3 linked regions of the Homo sapiens genome follow. The protein of the gene in region 2 interacts with the protein of the main gene of each other region in a pairwise test. Each region holds a gene or a part of one and is shown on either strand. Other genes may lie near its edges.

Region 1 (7,027 bases), on a different chromosome or scaffold from region 2:
TGGCAATGCTGACCTGGGGTTAACACCTGAAGGCCCAGAACAGCACATGGCTTGTAGCAAATGTTGGCTCTTAACATTAAAAAAAAAAATTTTTTTTTTGAGACAGGTTCTCACTCTGTCACCCAGGGTGGGGTGCAGTAGTGTGATCATGGCTCAACTGCAGCCTTGAACTCCTGGGCTCAAGTGATCCTCCCATCTCAGCTTCCCAAGTAGCTGGGACCACAGGCATGCACCACCATGCCTGGCTATTTTTAATTTTTTGTAGAGACGAGTTTTCACCATGTTGCCCAGGCTGTTCTCAGACTCCTGGGCTCAACAGATCCTCCTGCCTCAGCCTCCTGAGTAGCTGGGACTAGGTGCATCCACCACGCCTGGCTAATTTTTGTACTTTTTGTCAAGACGGAGTCTCGCCATATTGCCCAGGCCGGTCTCCAACTCTTGGGCTCAAGCAATCCTCCTGCCTCAGCCCCACAAAGTGCTAGAATTATAGGAGTGTGCCACTGTGCCCTACCTCAGTTTCCCTTAATCACCGCTTTTTAAAGACCCTGTCTCTAAATACAGCCACATTCTTACCCCTGGGGATCAGGACTTCAACATAAGAATTTGGGGTTGAGGGGGCCATAATTCAACCTATAACAGCCTGGGATGAAAAAATGAGGCACAGACCAGGCGTGGTGGCTCACGCCTTACTCCCAGCACTTTGGGAGGCCGAAGCGTGCAGATCACTTGAGATCAGGAGTACGAGACCAGCCTGGCCAACATGGTGAAACCCTGTGTCTACTAAAAATTCAAAAATCAGCCAGGCGTGATGGTGAGTTCCTATAATCTCAGCTACTCGGGAGGCTGAGGCACGAGTATCACTTGAACCTGGGAGGCAAGAGGTTGCAGTGAGCCGAGATCGTGCCACCACGCTCCAGCCTGGGCAACAGAGCAAGGCTCTGTCTCAAAAAAAAAAAAAAAAACACCCTCCTTCAGATAAGTGTGAGGCTTAATCGGTTATTGTTTGTCTCCCCAGCTGGGACCAGGGCACAGGCTGCCTGCTTTGTGGCTGTGTCCAGTGCCCAGCAGGCAGCCTGGCACAGGGTAGATGCTTATTTTTTTAGTTTTTTGAGACAGAGTGTTGCTCTTGTTGCCCAGGCTGGAGTGCAATGGTGCGATCTCGGCTCACTGCAACCTCCGCCTCTCGGGCTCAAGCGATTCTCCTGCCTCAGCCTCCCGAGTAGCTGGGATTACAGGCATGCACCACCATGCCTGGGTAATTTTATCTTTTTAGTAGAGATGGGGTTTCTCCATGTTGGTCAGGCTGGTCTCGAACTCCCAACCTCAGGTGATCTGCCTGCCTCGGCCTCCCAAAGTGCTGGGATTACAGGTGTGAGCCACCGCGCCCTGCAGATAGATGCTTATTAAGTATTCAGGTGCTCCATGTCCGCTTCAGCCCAGTGGTTACAGAAGGGCCACCCTCGGGTACCACCTGCTTGTGTCTGGGTCTGTAGCATCAGAAATAGGTGATCCCTGGGTTGGAGGCAGGACAAGCCAGCCGCATCCCAGCATCCTTGGACTTTCCCTGAGACCACCTGCAGGGACAGGCAGCTTATTCATCCACTTGCTATTGAGTGCCTACTGTATGCCGGGGAGCTGTGCTGTCCCATCATGGTTAGACTTCCTCACCTCCCATTTATGCAGAAATGGCCTTAGCTGGGAAACAGCAGAGCGGTTGTCAACTTGCATTTTTTTTTTTTTTTTGAGACAAGGTCTTGCTCTGTAGCCCAAGCTAGAGTGCAGTGGCGTGATCTTGGCTCACTACAGCCTTGACCTCCTAGACTTAGGCAATCCTCCCAGCTCTCAGCCTCCTGAGAAGCTGGGACTACAGGTGTGCACCACCACACCTGACTAATTTTTTAATTTTTTGTAGGAATGGGGTCTTGCTATATTGCCCAGGCTGGTCTCAAACTCCCAGGCTAGCCAGGCACGGTGGCTCACGCCTGTAATCCCAGCACTTTGGGAGGCCGAGGCGGGCGGATCACGAGATCAGAACAACAGAGCGAGACTCCATCTCAGAAACAAAACAAAAAACAAACTCCTGGGCTCAAGCAATCCTCCTGCCTGCCTTGGCTTCCCAAAGTGCTGGGATTATAGTTGTGAGCCACTATGCCCAGCCATGCCTACACCTTATCAGCAAAGGCCAATAGTGGGCTTGGCTGAGGGGGGATGGAAACTGCTGAGCTTACAGGAAGATGGGAAACGTCAACCAGGAGCCCCCGTCTCAGGGCCAAGCCCTTGCTTCCCTTTCTCTCCCACTGATAGCGTAGGAGGCCAACAGTCTTTCTGTTTATAGAAGGGATAAGCTCAGGGTGAATTCTTCAAGGTCACTGAACAGAGCAGCAGCTGGGAGCTTTTTTTTTTTTTTTTTTTTTTTTTCAGATGGAGTCTCGTTCTGTTGCCCAGGCTGGAATGCAGTGGCGTGATCTCAGCCCACTGCAACCTCTGCCTCCTGGGTTCAAGTGATCCTCCTGCCTCAGCCTCCCAAGTAGCTGGGATTATAGGCGCCCATCACTACGCCCAGCAAATTTTTGTATTTTTAGTAGAGATGGGGTTTCACCATGTTGGCCAGGCTGGTCTCGAACTCCTGACCTCAGGTGATCCAGCTGCCTTGGCCTCCCAAAGTGCTGGGATTATAGGCGTGAGTCACCGTGCCCGGCCAATTTTTGTATTTTTTGTAGAGGTGAGGTCTTACTATGTTGCCCAGGCTGTTCTCACACTTCTGGGCCCAAGCGATCCTCCCACCTCAGCCTCCCAAAGTGCCGGGATGACAGGTGTGAGCCACCGTGCCTGGCCTGCTGTGAGCTCTTGACTTTTTGAGAGGTGCAATGCTCTCTCAATTCTGGGCCCTATGAGTTTTTTCCCCCTTTGTGAAGAGGTAACTTTCCCCAGGTTCTGGGGGACGGTGGTGTTGTCAGAGCTAGATTTTAATCCGGGCCAGTGTGAGAACGTGCGTGTTCACTGAGTAGTGGGGCTGTTAGAACCTGACTCTCATCGGGGGCGTTGGCTCATGCTGGCTCACACAGTGAAACCCCGTCTCTACTAAAAATACAAAAAATTAGCCGGCCGTGGCAGTGCACGCCTGTAGTCCCAGCTGCTGGGGAGGCTGAGGCAGGAGAACCGCTTGAACCTGGGAGGTGGAGGTTGCGGTGAGCCGAGATAGTGCCACTGCACTCCAGCCTGGGTGACAAGAGCAAAAACTCTGTAAAAAAAAACAAAAACAAAAACAAAAAACTTGACTCTCACACCCTCTTCCCCCACAAAAAGATGAACTCTCATGAGTACAAGAGGACTGAGTCTTCAGGGAAGCACCAACTTGGGTAGGAATGGGGCAGGTGTGGTTTTCAACTTTGCGGAGAGCCCTCTGCATAGAGATCTGTCTAAAGACTTAGCTTCAGCTGGACACAGTGGCTCATGTCGGTCATCCCAGCACTTTGGGAGGCCAAAGCAGGAGGACTGCTTGAGGCCAGGAGTTCGAAACCAGCCTGGGCAACATGGAGAGTCCTTGTCTCTACAAAAAATAAAAAAATAAGCCGGGTGTGGTGGTGCGTACCTGTAGTCTCAGCTACTTGGGAGGCTGAGGTGGGAGGATCGCTGGAGCCGAAGAGGTCAAGGCTTGAGTAAGCTATGATTGCACCACTGCACTCCAGCCTGAGTGACACAGTGAGACCCTGTCTCAAAAGAAAAAAAAAAAAAAGACTTAGATTCGAGAACAGCAGGTATTGACAGATGAGCGCTCACCATGTGCTGGGTGGGGCGTAGTCAAAGGATTCCATGCAAAGCTTTTTTTTGTTTGTTTGTTTTTGTTTTTTTTTGGAGACAGAGTCTCTCTCTGTCACCCAGGGTGGAGTGCAGTGGTGCAGTCTCGGCTCACTGCAAACTCCACCTCCCGGGTTCAAGGGATTCTCCCGCCTCAGCCTCTTGAGTAGTAAGGATTACAGACATGCACCACTGCACCCGGCTAATTTTTTGTATTTTTTGTCTCTACAAAAAATAAAAAATAAGGCTGGGCGCAGTGGCTCATGCTTGTAATCCCAGCACTTTGGGAGGCCCAGGCAAGTGGATCCCCTGATGTCAGGAGTTCAAGACCAGCCTGGCCAACATGGTGAAACCCGTCTCTACTAAAAATACAAAAATCGGCTCGGCATGGTGGCATGTGCTTGTAATCCCAGCTACTTGGGAGGCTGAGGCAGGAGAATCACCTGAACCCACGTGGCAGAGGTTGCAGTGAATCGAGATTGCACCATTGCACTCTAGCCTGGGCAACAAGAGTGAAACTCCGCCTCAAAAAAATTAATAAATAAATAAAAATAAAAGATAAAAAATAGCCACGAGTGGTGGTACGTGCCTGTGGTCACAGCTACTCGCTGGGGAAGCTGAGGTGGGAGGCTCACTTGAGCCCAGGAGGTGGAGTTTGTAGTGAGCCGAGATTGTGCCACCGCACTCCACCTGGGTGACAGAGGGAGACTCCATCTCAAAAGAAAAAAAATTAAATTGAAAAAAAAAAACAAAAAACAGGCAGAGTGCAGTGGCTCATGCCTGTAATCCTAGCACTTTGGGAGGCTGAGGTGGGCGGATCACTAGGTCAGGAGTTTGAGACCAGCCTGACCAACATGGTGAAACCCCATCTCTACTAAAAATACAAAATTAGCCTGGCGTGGTGGCGCATGCCTGTAATCCCAGCTACTCGGGAGGCTGAGGCAGGAGAATCGCTTGAACCCAGGAGGCGGAGGTTACAGTGAGCCGAGATCACACAATTGCACTCCAGCCTGGGCAACGAGAGTGAAACTCCATCTCAACAACAGCAACAACAAAAAACAATTAGCCAGGCATGGTGGCGGGCACCTGTAATCCCAGCTGCTTCGGAGGCTGAGGCAGGAGAACTGCTTGAACCCGGGAGACAGAGGTTGCAGTGATCTGAGATGGTGTCACTGCACTCCAGCCTGGGCAAGAGAGCAAGACCCTGTCTCCAAAAAAAAAAAAGAAAGAAAGAAATGAGGTACAGGGAGGTAGAGTGACTTTCCTGAAGCCACACAGCTGAGAAGTAGCTAGCTAGGAACGGAGCCTAGGTAGTCTGGCTGCAGAGTATGAGGTCATGCCCACAACTCCAGACTCAGGGTCACCTGGGGGATGGCGCTCCCTGCCTCAGTCTCCCTGGAAGTTGGGGTGCAGGGGAGGGGTGCCCACATACAGAGGGAAGACGGAGATGCTGGGGTCACCCGGGGGATGGCGCTCCCCGCCTCGGTCTCCCTGGAAGTTGGGGTGCAGGGGAGGGGTGCCCAGATATGGAGGGAAGGCAGAGATGCTGATGCTGTTGCATCTCCTAGGTCCTGGCGGACACCAAGGAGCTTGTGTCGTCTAAGGTGTCGGGGGCCCAAGAGATGGTGTCTAGCGCCAAGGACACGGTGGCCACCCAATTGTCGGAGGCGGTGGACGCGACCCGCGGTGCTGTGCAGAGCGGCGTGGACAAGACAAAGTCCGTAGTGACCGGCGGCGTCCAATCGGTCATGGGCTCCCGCTTGGGCCAGATGGTGTTGAGTGGGGTCGACACGGTGCTGGGGAAGTCGGAGGAGTGGGCGGACAACCACCTGCCCCTTACGGATGCCGAACTGGGTAAGTGTGGCCAGCGGGCTGCTCTGGGACCCCTCCCCAGGCCCCCTGACCGGAAGCCGCTGTCGGCCTCCTGGGGTCTGTGCCGACACTCACTGCCGCCTCGTCCCTGCCACTTCTCCCGGGCATCTTGGAATCTCATCACTAACGCAGTCCCCTCTGTCCTGCTCACCAGCTCCCGCCCTCATCCACCACAGTCTCCTCCCCACAGCAGCCACCAGAGGGCGCCTGTGACCACCTGAGTCAGAACCCGTCCCTCTGCCCACAGCCCTCCATGGACCCCACCTCCCCTGGGGTCAAAGCCCAAGTCCTCGTCACAGCCCACAAGGTCCTGCACAACCTCCCCTGTCCTCTCCCCGCCCTCCTCCTCTTCCCCCTTCGCCACTCCGCTCCTGCATAAATACGTGACTAAACTTGAGATCTCACTGAACTGTGACAACAATGCTGGTGTTCCCGCCAGGCCAGACATCCCACTCCAGTCATCTCGGTCACATATTCGCACTCCCTGCACTGTTTATTTGATATTCTTCTTTAATTAATTTATTTATTTATTTAGAGACAGAGTCTCGCCCTGTCACCTAGGCTGGAGTGCAATGGCGTGATCTCAGCTCACTGCAACCTCTGCCTCCTGGGTTCAAGCGAGTCTCCTGCCTCATCCTCCTGAGTAGCTGGGATTACAGGCACCTGCCACCACACAGCTAATTTTTTGTATTTTTAGTAGAAACGGGGTTTCACTATGTTGGCCAGGCTGGTCTCGAACTCCTGACCTTGTGATCTGCCCACCTCGGCCTCCCCAAGTACTGGGATTACAGGTGTGAGCCACCATGCCCGGCCCTTTTTTATTTATTTGTTTTAGAGATAGAGTCTCACTCTCTTGCCCAGGCTGAAGTGCAGTGGTGCGATCATAGCTCAATGCAGCCTCCAACTCCTGGGTTGAGGCGAGCCTCCCATCTCAGCCTCCGAGTAGCTGGGACTACAAGCACACACCATCACGCCCAACTAATTTTTCTTTATTTAATTTTTGGTAAAGACGGGGTCTCCCTCTGTCATCCCAGCTGATCCAGAACTCCTTGGCTGGAGTGATCCTACTGCTTTAGCCCCCCAAAGTGCGGGGATTGGGATTTTTGCAAATAAGTAGCTTAGGATATAGGCAGGGCGCGGTGGCTCAGCCTGTAATCCCAGCACTTTGGTGGGCCGAGGTGGGCAGATCACCTGAAGTCAAGAGTTTGAGACAAGCCTGGCCAACATGGTGAAACCCGGTCTCTACTAAAAATACAAAAATTAGGCCGGGCACGGTGGGTCACGCCTGTAATCCCAGCACTTTGGGAGGCCAAGGCCGGGCGGATCACAGGTTCAGGAGATCGAGACCATCCTGGCT
Region 2 (7,027 bases):
AGGAAATTTAAAAAATGCATGTTTTAAATTATAGTTAACTTATCAACTAAATAATATAGAAAGTTTTAGTGCTTGTCTGTGTAATGAGTGTTATATGCACACATATATATATGTATTCAAATATATATTGTAGGTGGGAAAAAGCACACATTCTGATAGCTGTCCTCCTAAAGTTCCCCAAGGAAATATTAATATAAGAAGTAAAGAGTATTGTATTTTGACTTGCAGATGTACTTTAGGGCCTCAAAAACATGTAAGTTAGAAGGCACTTTTGTAGGTAAATAAATTCTTTAAACGTGGCGAGTAGCTCGTACGTAAAAATTAATGTAATAACTTGTATTTCTTCCATAATTATAACACATTAACTTCTAAATGAAGTAAACTGGTATACATAATTATTTCTGTGTGAAAATAAATTCAGCTTCTTCTTGGGACACTAGCGAGACTCCCTGCTAAGGTTATCCCTGGTGGCGCCCACAGCCCCACTCTAGAAAAAGCCGAGGACACCCAGGCGTGATGGCTCAAGCCTGTAATCCCAGCACTTTGGGAGACCGAGGTGGGCGGATCACAAGGTCAGGAGTTCGAGACCAGCCTGACCAACACGGTGAAACCCTGTCTCTACTAAAAATACAAAAATTAGCCGGGCGTGGTGGCGTGCACCTGTAATCCCAGCAACTCAGGAGGCTGAGGCAGGAGAATCACTTGAACCTGGGAGGTGGAGGTTGTAGTGAGCCAAGATCGCGCCACTGCACTCTAACCTGGGCGACAGAGCGAGACTCCGTCTCAAAAAAAAAAAAAAAGAAAAAAAGAAAGAAAGAAAGAAAAGAAAAGAAAAAGCCCAGGGCAAGGCCCACAAGGGAAAGAGGATGAAGAGCAGAAGCTTTCTTCTAGTCACACTTTTCTATTCTGAGGCCCCAGAGACTGACTGGTCTCCCTTTCTGCTACCACTACCCCATGACTCCAGCAAGGCTTTACTTCTCTACTGGCCCTCTCTTCCCATCTCTGATGAATTATACAGCTCCACCAAGAAATTCTGTCATGCAATTGATTCTACATCACCTCCCCACCCCCAAGTGCAAGCAATAATGGCAGGCTGAGGGCATGGCATTAAAGAGCCTCTCCTAGGTGTCCTCCCTTGCCCATCACTGTCTCCTAATTTCTCTTCATACTTTACTTTTCCCATAATTGTTATTTTTGTACCTGTGTTCTAGTAAAATCTATTTATATTTCAGGACTATAAAGACTAAATGAAGCTCTTAAGTAGTTTACCAGAGAAGGACCAGGCATAGTAAGGAGTGGCTCTACTGGGGAGGGCTGAAAGACTGCAGGTGGGCAAAATGTGCCATCTGTGAGCACTGAAGCAATAAAGTGTGGTCACCAATTCAACCCCCATATCCTCCTCTAAGTCCTGCAGTCCCACTGCTCTCCCAATCCAAACAGAAGGCACTAGGGCAGGAGGGGTCAGGGTTGGGCAGAAGGGAACAGCATTTACAGTCACCTGCATGACAGTTAATCCCACAACCTCCTCCACACCCCCATGCCTCTTCTCTTTTCTCACTAACAGAACCCATCTTTTCTTTTTTCTTTTCTTTTCCTTTTTTTTTTTTTTTTTTTTGAGACAGGGTCTTGCACTGTTGCCCAGGCTGGAGAATAGTGGTGCGATCTTGGCTCGCCACAACCTCCACCTCCCAGGTTTGAGTAATTCTCATGTCTCAGCCTCCTCTCCTGAGTAGCTGGGATTACAGGTGTGTGCCACTATGCCTGGCTAATTTTTTTGTATTTTTAGTAGAGATGGGGTTTTGTCATGTTGGCCGGGCTTGTCTCAAAGCCTGGCCTCAAGTGATCTGCCTACCTCAGCCTCCCAAAGTGCTGGTATTACAGGTGTGAGCCACAGCACCTGGTTAGAACGCATCTTTTCTATAGTATCAATTAGGCAGCAACATGCCCAGGAAAGCAGGCCCTGGAAACAAATCATGATTGGTGCATCACAGAAATTTCTTCTTTGCTGGTGGAAGGACTAGGAGTGGGCCGAGTCATAAGCAGAGGTCAGGTGGAGCCTTCCAGAGAGGACTTTCTTCCCTGACAAAGCATTATGGAGAGAAGGACCATTTTTCGTGCTTTTATTTCTTTTTGCTCAGGGCGCTGATTTGTGAGATGATGCTTAATGCTATGGCAGGCATCAAACCACCGTGAGGAAAAAAGTCAAGAAAATCACAGACACAGACCCAAACCCTAACATCAATGAGCAAGCAACCAGAACAAGTGCTAAAACCTATCTCCAGATTGCTTATTAAGGAAATAATAAAAGTCCTTCTAGTTTAAGCCTCTTGGGTATTCAGTTACTTACAACTAAAAGTACTCCAAATTCATACAAGTTGTACGGGGGAAAGGCAGAAGTTCAGAACATCATTATCTGTGACAATGAGGGAAGGAAATTCCCATGGCTATGGGGCTGAGACAGAACTGCTGAGAGTCAAATAAAAGTCAATCAGGGACTAAACACTGGTGCCTCAAAATATGACCAGAAATATATATCAGGAGTCCCCAAAATGTTGTGGAAAAAATAACTTTATCTTTCCAACACTCTGACATGGATAAGGGAAGAATCTGTGAGTGTGGTGGTACCTGTTATCCCCAGGGTCAATCAAATCAGGTTTTATGGTACCAAATGGTATCATCAATTGGCCAAACGCTCTCCAGTGCTCACCAGCAGGGCAACATGCTACACTTCTCCCAGGCCCTGGACTAGCAGAGGTCCTTATATACTCCCCAAAACACTCTGCTTGCCTGGCTTTTTTTAGAGTGTTGAGGACTGACTAACCTTATCCTCAGCATTCCCTCCTTTTCTGCTTTGCTAATTATTCACAATGTTTACAATATAAAGACTCTCCTTTGAGGAGAAGAACCTAGTTGCATTCGTCTTTGTGCAAGACATGGTACTTATTAGAGGAAGAGGAGAAAAAGTAAGGGTTCAGGGTTTTCTTGTTTGTTTTTAAGATTTTGACTAACAATAGTGAATTCTGCTCTTCTCATAACTTACAAACATTTTGCTTTCCTAGAACATAAGCACTCACCAAAGGGTCCTGCAATCCTTAGGCCAGCTAAAGGGTTAAAGGGAGTCAATGCTGCTCCCAAGGCTCTGATCCAAACTGGAATTGGTCTGTCTTGATCAGCAAGGTCTGGTCGTTCAGGGAAACCCCAAGGCTCCACTAAAATGAGATGATTAACCCTGTTGGGGGAAAGAATATATTTAAGTTCATTTGGTAAAATCACCCTAAGACTATAAAGAGCTAACATGATTTATAAAATAAAGGTAGAATGAACCACCTTCAAAAACCTTCACGTTAAAGATTAGTGCTAAATAGATCGTATCATGCTCTTATTCTGTGTAAACTTTTGAGATTCAGTAGGATCTAAGAGGTGTATGGTAGAAAGAGGGCTTTATTTTTAATATATCTAAATGTGAATAATAAAAGATATATAGAGTACAGAACTGTGTGTTTCTTGAGAAAAAGAAAAAAGGGCATTTGTTATTTAAGTTACACTCTGGCAGATGATGTAGATCACTGGCCACTCAGAAAAATCCAATGGTTCCATGTATGTCTAGGTTGACACTGCAAAAATGGCTAAAGATCAATATCACATTCTTATAAAATAGCCTCAGATACCAACAACAGTTATCTCCTATGAATCAACCATCCTAAAAATGTAAGTGAAGTTAAGGACTTAAAGCGGGTTCAAAAGTACTTTAAATTAACTTTTCATAAACATGAGGATAACGTAACGTGGACTGAAAACACTCCCTAGTTCAGGATTCTAGAATTGTTGAAAAGGAACAAGTCTATCTACCTTATCCATGATATCACGCTATACTGACATTAGATTCTGTTTTCAATTCTTTCCCAATTTTCTTTTTCATTGACCAAGAGATAGAAAATATTCAGTAGAACTTCATATACAATTATTTCATATTGTTAATCATTTTAATTTTTCCATCTTATGAAACTTCTTCCCAATGAAGGAAAACCAGAACTATCAGCAGTACTTCCACATAGCTGCATCATGCTTTAAACATCATAAAGATTCCAAACAAAGTACAAAGATCCTTCTGATACAATACAATGTTCAACTGTAACCAAGCCAGCCAAGAAATGCCAGCCAAAAATCTCCCAAGGATAACTGACAATGACTCTAAAGTCCCTTTCCTAAGTTATAACTGAAACAGAAAGGTAAAGAATCTAAAACATGGGCACAGATGGTATTATTCTTCATATAAAATCTATTCTATTATTGTTGTCAGCATGCATAAGAATAAGTTAGTAACAGGTCCATACTGTGACTGTTTTCTTTCCAGACAGAAAGCTTTGGTGCACAGAGCTCTATGGTACCTTGGAGAATATTGGGTGCAATCATCTTAGATAAGAAGGAAGCTGAGATGTACTACATGACCTGCTCCGGTACATAACATTAGTTAACACAGAACTAGGGCTGAAACCCACATTTCTCTACCCCAGCATACCAGCAGATGCCGACAAGGAATTGGGCAGAAGGCTTTATTTTCTAAAAATAGGCTAATCAACATAAGAGAGACATATTAGTAAAGGTAAAACTTAACCTTTATCAACTCTCAAGGCCAGTCCTAATATTATACTCCAAACTTCATAGCATTAACATATGTAGAATATAACCATAGAGATGTATGAAGATATGTGATAAATGAGTTTCATTTAATTATGAAGTATGCCTTCACAGCCTAAAAATTTCATATGAGAACATTTTCTAATAGTGTATCAGAAAGAGGTTAGAAATGAGTGTTTTGCTTTGTTTTTTAATGGCAAAGACTAACTCTTATATTTTGACCACCTCCTAAATTCCTTTTTATTTTTATTTGTTTTGAGATGGAGTCTCACTCTGTCGCCCAGGCTGGAGTGCAGTGACACAATCTCAGTTCACTTCAACCTCCGCCTCCCAGGTTCAAGTGATTCTCCTGCCTCAGTCTCCTGAGTAGCTGGGATTACAGGCACACACTACCACGCCTGGCTAATTTTTGTATTTTTAGTAGAGATGGGGTTTTACCATGTTGCTCAGGCTGGTCTCGAACTCCTGACCTCGTGATCTGCCCACCTTGGCCTCCCACAGTGCTGGGATTATGGGCCTGAGCCACTGTGCCCGGCCCTAAATTCCTTTAATTATAGCCCACAATAAGATCTGGGGTAGGGGAAGGAAGAGGCCTAACAGGGGTATGAGTAGAACTAATGAGACAGCCACCTAGTTGAAAGCAGCAAAGATTCATGTTAAGAAACAGCCACTATTATTCACTACTGACTTATCTCCCAAAGAGAAAAATGAACTCTTTATTAAAACATACCCTACCCTAAACAATTTAGTTAAATTTTTGTCACAAATTTGTTAATGGATCTTGCTCTAAGCTCTTTCTGACCTGCTAACCCAAAAACAGGTAGGACAAAGGAAAACTTGACAGAAGTCTCATCTGTCTGTAGGTAAGTGACTGTTTTTGCCTTAGTTCTGGCTTGCCTTTTAAATATGATCTTCAAAATTTCATCCCTAGGTGAAAATGCCAGTTTAACAAATTATGCAAAGTATATATACTAAGGCAGATGATCTTTTTGTTTCTTTTTGAAAAGGAGTGAACCGTGCCTACAATTGCTCAATTCTACTGTCCCTACAATTGCTCAATTCTACTGTCCCTACAATTGCTCAATTCTATGTCTTCATAACCTAGCATGAGGCTTAGCACATGGCAGATGCTTGGTAAACATTTGGATTAATATGCTTTTCCACATTTTCTTTTAGTCCTAGTCTATTAAGGATATACAAATTTTATAAAGTATAATCATAGCATAAGCATATCCAGCTGGATTTTTCTGGTCCCCCAGATGACATCAGAACATCACTGCTATTTATTAATCTTATTATTCGGTAACAAAATCCATTTAGATGGTCAAGAACCAGTCTAGTCTTTTTTAAAATAAAATTATACTGTTTGGAACAGAAAAATAAATCATAAGCATTGAATACCGGCCACAAAATTGTATTAATGTATATGTGCATGGGTGTCTGAAACAAGTTTTGTGGGGTGATACAATTGTATTTTTCTATTCCAAACAATATAGAAGGGCTATAGTAAAAAAAGTTTGAACATAATTTTTTAAAACTCTACAACATCTAAACTATAGTTAACTGTAGTTATATATCATCTGCTTCTACTACATGTAAAGACCCCAGAAAATAATTGTTCCTTATTTTTGGTTTTAAGAATTTTAAATAAGATAGACCATGCAAAGCACTCAGGTTGGTGGCCATCGAATAGTAAGTATTCAGTAAATGTAAGCTAGTTACAGTAGCAAGAATAGGAAGACTACAAGAGTAGAATTTATTCCCGGGAACATGGAAAGACAGGTATTTATTCTTCAGAAGAGCTTGATCACAGGTGACTGCAATGTTGCACCAGACCAAGGTCCCAGGCTATCTTCTAACCTCCGCTTTTAGTAAAAATATTATCTCCTCACTTGATAGGAGTTACTGGGTTTTAATGTACATCTAAATTATTATAATTAGCTAAACCCTACTCTTTAATATTCCAGAGAGGGTTCCCTGCTGGGATTGTTAGTTCACATCTAGGGTAAAGAATGGGTCCAACCAGATAGCACATGTGAGTCATCCTATTAGACATCCTTGTCAAGAACCAGAGACTGGTTTAAACCACAAGAAAAACAAAGAACCAGCAGAGCAGGAACAACAGAACAGCTCATCAGTTTTGAAATATACAAAGGCATTCTTCTTAATGTTAGTCATTAGAATTGGCCTTGAGTTTGAAGATGGTGAGCAGAGTACATCCTTAAGGGCAAAGCAGTGGACAACACCTGTACCAACACACTAGGACCTGATTTCACTTGCTCTAAATGCTAACAAGGGTAGATAAGCCTGACCTTCATGAGATTTAAAGACAGCCACCAGTCAGAAATAATGCAACAAGAACAATAATCAGGTCAGGCGTGGTAGCTCA
Region 3 (7,027 bases), on a different chromosome or scaffold from region 2:
TTGACTACGGATTTCTTCTACTTTTAGGGTGAGTTCTAAACTTTGGTTTGCGGAGCTTGGAAAAATGTCATTCCCTAAGTGAGACACATTTCTTTCCTAAACTTGTGGCCATACACATTATGTGGTTTCCACTGGTCTTCCAACTGTATTCACTTAGAAAGTATGCCTTTTGCTAATAAGTCAGTGAGAGAGGGGTATCCTCAGTTAAATGGGTGGCTAAAGGGGATTCTGCTCAGAGTGGAACACCAGCAGCCCCCTCATTTTTAGGACTTCATATATGGTTATTCCATTTGAAAAGTTTAGTTACAGTACAGTTTCAAGAATTGCGGCAATAAGAGGAAACTCTGTGTTCCCTGATGAACGTTCTAAGCTTTGCTCTCAAATAATAGTCTTTGGTACAGAATCGTGTGGGTGTTTATTTTTCTAAGGCTCAGGGTAGGTAATTTAGTGAGTTTTTAAGTGGAGGATGTGCCAGGACTTTCAGCACTTACAGTTGCAAGTGGCATCAAAGGTAAAGTAACAGACTTTTTGTGCCAGTCAGAAACTCACAGAAGAGAAAGTACTGTACATAGGCCACCTCTCTTGAAAGCACATGAATTTAATTATTGTTCTGATCATGTGAGCAGGCACCTTCCAAGTTGTTCTCTCTCTCTCTTTTATTGTCTCTCCCTGTTTACTTCATTGCCTCTTCCTTAAGCTTCTGCTTTCTTGCAGATCTTCAAGATGGAAAGGGATTAGGCCTGAGAGAAGCCCCAAGGGTCCAAGAGCAGAGGCCTGGCACTGGCTGACCCTGGGAGGGAGACACACCTGCCCTCATCCACTGGCATCTAAATGGGGCCCTGCAATCAGAGCTTGGGTGGCTCCAGGTGCCTTAACACCGCTGTGCTCAGGCCAGGCTCTGACCCCAGCCATCAGACTCAGGGACAGTGACCCTTCTGACATGGGCCTTAGCTGGTGTATCCCAACTCTTTTTTGCCTTCTTTCCATTAATTTGGTGGGATGCTCTTGACTCCAGCCCAGTAACCATACCCCTCTCTTTCCACACTCACGGGTTCTCTGTGTATTTTGGGCCTGGGTGTCAGATCGCACCCTCTGCACAGCCACTCTGGCCTGGGCCTCCCACATGCCCAGGGCTCACAAGTGCCTCTGTGCTCCATCAGCGTCTCTCCTTGTCCTGGAACAGAAACTGTGCCAAGATATCTAGTGGCAGAGCCAGTGTGACGCTTTTGCTGGGCAGCATCTGGCGACTTGGCAGGGGATGGTGGGCATTTGGCAGCCTCTGATGAATTCAGGCTTTCTTGGTCACTTGGAGTGCCAGAGCTCACCACTGTGTCTGACCTGCCATGTTGTGATGAGAGAACTGGGCTCCCCTTGCATGTGGTTCAGAACCAGAGCCTGTATTTTGCATTCTGTTGTTCTCTTTTCTTTGGACCTGAATGTGCTTTATGCCAATCAGATATCACTGCCTTTGTGTTTTTCAGCTTTTCTCAACAGTCTTCTGCGTAGGCTCTAAATAAAAGGTGCTTTGCAGCATCAGTCGGAGCTGTGTCAGAGAAAGGTTATTACGGGAATGAAACATGAGATGAGGCTATTGCTAGTATGTTTCACTTTAAGTGAACTGGCCATCTTAGACCCCAAACCCAAACTTTCAACATTGATAAGTTACAAGGTGCTTATTTGCTTTGAAAAATTATTATTTTTTTTAAGCAGTGGATATTATCCTTTTATGAAACATGAAAGCTATAAATCTTCTCCCTAGTAAAACGTGGGCTGCCTGTAGGTTTTAAACAATTTTTGTGGTTGGTTCAGAGATCCCAGGAATAGACCCTAGACAGGAATCTCTATGTCTGAAAGAGATTCTACCTGGGTCGCTTGATGTGTATTCTGATTTTTCTGTTGTTTACACATAATATTTACATATTTGATTTTTCTGTTGTTTACCCACATTCATGAGTGTAATACCACATAAGGCAAGGAACACAAGCACTGAATAGAGTGAGTTCACTCAGTATTCCAAAAGTTCCTGGAAATTGACTGTAATTTGTGTTTCACAGTTAGCTTTTAACACTTTATGTTGTTAATAAGAAAAATGCAACATACCTCTCCACGCCACTCAGTTTCCACTTGTGTTTTCGGGACATCAGTAATCCCCCACCCCAAGCTGCCTGAAAAAAAATCATATGAGGAAAATGGTAGCAGTTTGTCATTGCCTAGATTTCTATAGTCTGGTGTCTTTCTAGGTGAAAATGATCTTGACCCCAGGCCACTTAGGAAGTTGACCACCTCCTTCTGGCACTAACCTTCAGAGTTTACACCGAAGGGCCCTTCTAAGGTCTCAGATTCCATCCCACATTTATATGGGTGTAAGGAGCCACCTTGGAGGCATAGCTCCTGGTCCGTAGAAGAGAGAGAAAGACCCTCTCCCAAACCTATCACCAGCACCATTAGTCCTCATGAAGTCATGTTCTCAGAATACGAAACCCTGTGGTCCCCACAGTGTAAGGCAGAGAAGATGGGCAGGAGGGCCATTAAACAGCTTCCAAGTTGCAGGGAAAACTCTTTTGACAAGTCTAAATGATTCCAGAAATAAGAAGTGGCTTCATAACTCTATTTCACTGATGTGTGATTTTGGATAATTTCTGTGTCCAAAATTCACAAGCAGGGAAGATTCATACCAGTTAATTAGCTGAGCAGTTAGAACACGTCTTAACAATTTGTACTTGATCAAGGTTGAAGATTTGAATTGGTGTAGTAATCTCCTTTAAAAATAGAATGCCAAGATGGAGATTCATTTGGAAATATTAACTTTCTTTCCTCTGTGTGTACAAATAATTCTAGGATAATTTTAAATGGATTATAAAATTCTTTTATGATATAATCACTTCCCCCCACCTTTTGTTGTAAGTTCAGCCCTCTTTTTGTTTTGTTTTGTTTCTGAGACAGAGTTTTGCTCTTGTTGCCCAGGCTGGAGTGCAATGGTGAGATCTTGGCTCACTGCAACCTCTGCCTCCTGGGTTCAAGCAATTCTCCTGCCTCAGCCTCCCAAGTAGCTGGGATTACAGGCACCCACCACCATGCCTGGCTAATTTTTGTATTTTTAGTAGAGACGAGGTTTCACCATGCTGGCCAGGCTGGTCTCGAACTTCTGACTTCAGGTAATCCACCTGCCTCAGCCTCCCAAAGTGCTGGGATTACAGGCGTGAGACACTGCACCTGGCCCAGTTCTTTTGCACTTTGAAAAATTATGATTTTCCAAACGTGTACTATTTTAAGATTCTTTCTACTTTATAGAATGTATGAATGTTAAAGCTAATAAGAGTAAGTGGTAAACTTGGTATGTTTCAAAGAAAAGCTAATAAAACTGGTTAAAAGATTCCCTAGTTCTAATTTAAGTAGGAGGCCCAGAGGAACAACCCATAGCTTCTGCTGGCTCAGGACACACAGACATTCTCATTTTTGAAGTTGCCGGGTAATCCTCTTCCTGAATCAGCCAGCAAGGTCTACCAGGATTTCCAGTCCTGAGGCCCAGGTCACTAATGATATCGGATAGTTCAGTCTTTTCTCAGTGTCTTCATGTGTAAAATGAAAGGGGCTCTGGTAGCCTAATGAACGACTCACACTGTGAATCAGGGAGGATAAAGAACATTGGTGATTGCTCTGCAGGAATACTCTGGAATAATGGAAATGCACCCAGCTAAGCCTGTGGAAATTTTCTGCCCCTAAAGAAAAGAACATTAATGAGGCCAGGTGTGGTGGCTCCTGCCTGTAATCCCAGCATTTTGGGAGGCCAAGGCAGGTGGATCACCTGAGGTCAGGAGTTCGAGAGCAGCCTGGCCAATATGGAGAAATCCCATCTCTACTAAAATTGCAAAAATTAGCTGGGCATGGGTGCGCACGTCTGTAATCCCAGCTACTCAGGAAGCTGAGGCAGGAGAATTGCTTGAACCCTGGAGGCGGAGGTTGCGGTGAGCTAAGATCACGCCACTGCACTCCTGCCTGGGCGACAGAGCAAGACTCTGTCTCAAAAAGAAAAAAAAAAGAGCATTAATTTGGTCTGAATAATTATTATAAAGCCAAAATGATCTAAGCCAGGGCTAGATCATTGTTATAGCCCTGGCTTAGACCCAGTGCTGGCCCATGACAACATAAGGATCTTGCACTCGAATGAACATCAACTTATGCGTTCCTTCACTGAGAAAGTCTTGCAATGAAAAAATTATCAGCTGAGCCAAGCATTGCGCTTAGTTTGTGATGGTTTGTGATTAGCGATGGTTTGTGACTGATGATGGTTTGGCACAAACTCTTTATCTCATATGGATCATTAACAGTTTGCAGGTGGTAGCTAATCGTCAAACCACACTTTGAGTAATACTAATCTAAACTTAAATCCCTTCGGTCCTTCTAAAACTTAACACATTTTTTTTCATTGGAAAATGTTCTGGAGGGAACACCTTCATTATTTTTTAGTGTGACAAGGCCTGAAGTCAAAACGTTTCAAATATAATCTATCTTCTTAGCTGACCAAGCTACGAAATTGGAACTTTGGTGGTCCTTATTTCCCAGGAAGTTGTCAAGCCTATTTTCCTCTCTAAATACAGGAATATCTAACTTGAGCTTCAGTTTTTTGCTTTTGTTTGTTTTTAATTCTCTGGGTTTCCTACATAAATGCAACTCCTCTTTACTCTTCTGACCATTCTGGTAAGTGAGGAACAGCAGGACTGTGTGCGTAGGTTGTATTCCTCCATGGATGCAATGGCTCGATGAATTGAGAACAAAGTGGTCAGCTTGGGTACTGATCATAGAAATACAAATATTACCATGTTGGGGACATTAAGGTATAATCAGCCTTGGGATGCTTCTGGTGCACGGTGTGTACTGTGTGAGTTGTGTGCTAATTTGCTTCATCCAGCTTTAAAAGCTTTAATATCACCACTCTGAAAATAAGCTGACCAAGTTAAAAAAAGAGAAAACAAATTTCCTTTGTGTGTCCCACATGAAAAACGTGCAAGGACGTTTTAGTGGCCAGTCCCTAAGGGATACTTACATCCACATGCATCCAGATCTTATACTTTTTGCAAATGTCAGCGACAGCTAAGAGGGGGTCAAATGCTCCGTACACGGTGGTTCCAGCTGTGGCACTCACGAGGAAAGGAACAAACCCCTGTGCGAACGAGAAAGCCCCAAATCATGGAAAACAGAGTCAAGGGTTCTTTTAAAAAGCTGATTCAAAGCAATGGAAATTCTCTCCCTAACAGACACGTCTGAATTTGAGGAAGCAGCAGCAGAGTTACTGACACCCCGGGGTCTGGGACAAATTGATGTTCACTCTCTGGAATCTGAGTTCTCTAGGCTATGCTGTTGGACCTGACTGTGTCTTAAAAGAACAGACATTCTGATTCTCAGAAGAGGCTGTAGTGAACCCAGAGGCTGTCAGGGACGTCCCCGAGACATGTATATATTCCCGGTAGACTTTCTGGCCCTTTTAACCCCCTTTGCTCACTTTCAAGTGTTCCTTATTCACAACGAGGCCTCTGAACTTCATAAATCCCCTAGAGTGAGTAGGCAGGAGAATGAAGAGAAGTAGCTCTGACCAGCCCATTATTCCTATTTGGAAAATGCCCAGATAATTTATTTCACGTTTCAGCACGGAGCGGCTAAAATAATACGCCATGACTTTTATCCGTCTAACTAGTCCTCAGTCTCTCTGGCCATGGCTAAATGAAAACTGATTGAAGTAACGGGCTGGAAGAAGGCAGGAGAATGCCACAAACAGGATCGCCATAGTCCCTCATTCCATAAGGACTCTGTCCTGTCTATAGAACGTGATGTTATGGTGTCAGTCTTTAGGTGGCAGCAAAGGTTTAATCTTCTAGTTGATGTTACTAGAAGTAGTTCTAGTACTTGCACAAGGAGGGAAACCTTCTCCTGCTGCCTGCCACTTAGTAAAACAAAACCAAACGAAAAAGGGCATATGAACGTAAATCATTATTTCTGAGTTCCTAATGATAAAATGCATGTGTATGTTATTAAATCAGAAACTGTAGGTTATATCTACCAAATGGTAAACAAAGAATTCTAGAAACAAATTCTCTGATTTGTGAGCCATCCCAGGTTGTAAATGACTTTCTAGAGCTTTGGGAATCTTGGGCAGGCATTCAGAACTTGTTACTTCTGAAAAGAGTTCTAAATTGCTTCCTGCAAAATAAGACGTCTGGAGAGCCAATGCTAACAGCATGCACCTACACGGGAAAAACTGGCCCCTTTTGAAGAACTGCACCAGGGTCTCTCACATACTGCATTAGCATTCTGCTATTTCCCCGCCTCTGAAAATATTCTTTCAAATGTGTGGGTGTTTCATGCCAACCCTCAGTACCTAGGAAGACAAATGCTTTGGAAACGCTCACTGTATCTCTGTATATAATATTTATTCAGCAATTTAAACTTTTCTAAAGCAGAGCCTATAACCCAGAGAAATAAATAGTGACTGGATGCAGAATTCTATGTTCTCATTAAACCTGGGAGATTGAGGCTTGGATCCTCTTTTTAAAATAAAACCAAAACACATTTTGTTCTCCGGTGGATGGAAATAGAAATATGGGCTGGATAAAGCTCCCGGCAGAAACTTACTTTCTGTTTGGCTTCAAGAATCCTTCTTTCAAGATCAGATGGAATCATTTTCCCTCTGGAAGGAAAAAGAAATATAGATTTGCTTTGAATAATTTGCTTCATCGTCTTTACAACGTAAGTGGCCGCAGGAGGGTAAAGTCCAACCCCAAACTGTTGATAACAATACTCGGAGAAAACAACTCCTTGACTGCTTCCAGGAAGGATGCATTTACTTGCCTGGATGAGGCATGACTATCATTTCTGGCACGTTTTGCAGACTTGTGACCGTATTGTGTTGTTCCCTATAGAACGATTACCATGACCCTCTGCTGTGCACAGAAGCTTCTTATTAAGTCATCCTCTTAATTCAGTTAAAACAAGCCTGATTTGGAGCAAAATGTTTGGCAATGAAAGGAGAGTT

The links. The genes of interacting proteins can lie anywhere in the genome.
Region 1: the proteins of ABHD5 (region 2) and PLIN3 interact in binary tests that used the Homo sapiens proteins (3 or more experiments, as listed by UniProt).
Region 3: the proteins of ABHD5 (region 2) and GAD2 interact in binary tests that used the Homo sapiens proteins (3 or more experiments, as listed by UniProt).

What each region holds. Positions count from the first base shown.
Region 1 is NC_000019.10:4,850,641-4,857,667, reverse strand, and holds part of PLIN3 (perilipin-3), read left to right. Parts: intron 1-5,366; coding exon 5,367-5,652; intron 5,653-7,027. UniProt on the Homo sapiens protein: Structural component of lipid droplets, which is required for the formation and maintenance of lipid storage droplets. Required for the transport of mannose 6-phosphate receptors (MPR) from endosomes to the trans-Golgi network.
Region 2 is NC_000003.12:43,707,911-43,714,937, reverse strand, and holds part of ABHD5 (1-acylglycerol-3-phosphate O-acyltransferase ABHD5), read right to left. Parts: intron 3,230-7,027; coding exon 3,075-3,229; intron 1-3,074. UniProt on the Homo sapiens protein: Coenzyme A-dependent lysophosphatidic acid acyltransferase that catalyzes the transfer of an acyl group on a lysophosphatidic acid.
Region 3 is NC_000010.11:26,268,774-26,275,800, reverse strand, and holds part of GAD2 (glutamate decarboxylase 2), read right to left. Parts: intron 6,683-7,027; coding exon 6,628-6,682; intron 5,162-6,627; coding exon 5,045-5,161; intron 2,166-5,044; coding exon 2,101-2,165; intron 1-2,100. UniProt on the Homo sapiens protein: Catalyzes the production of GABA.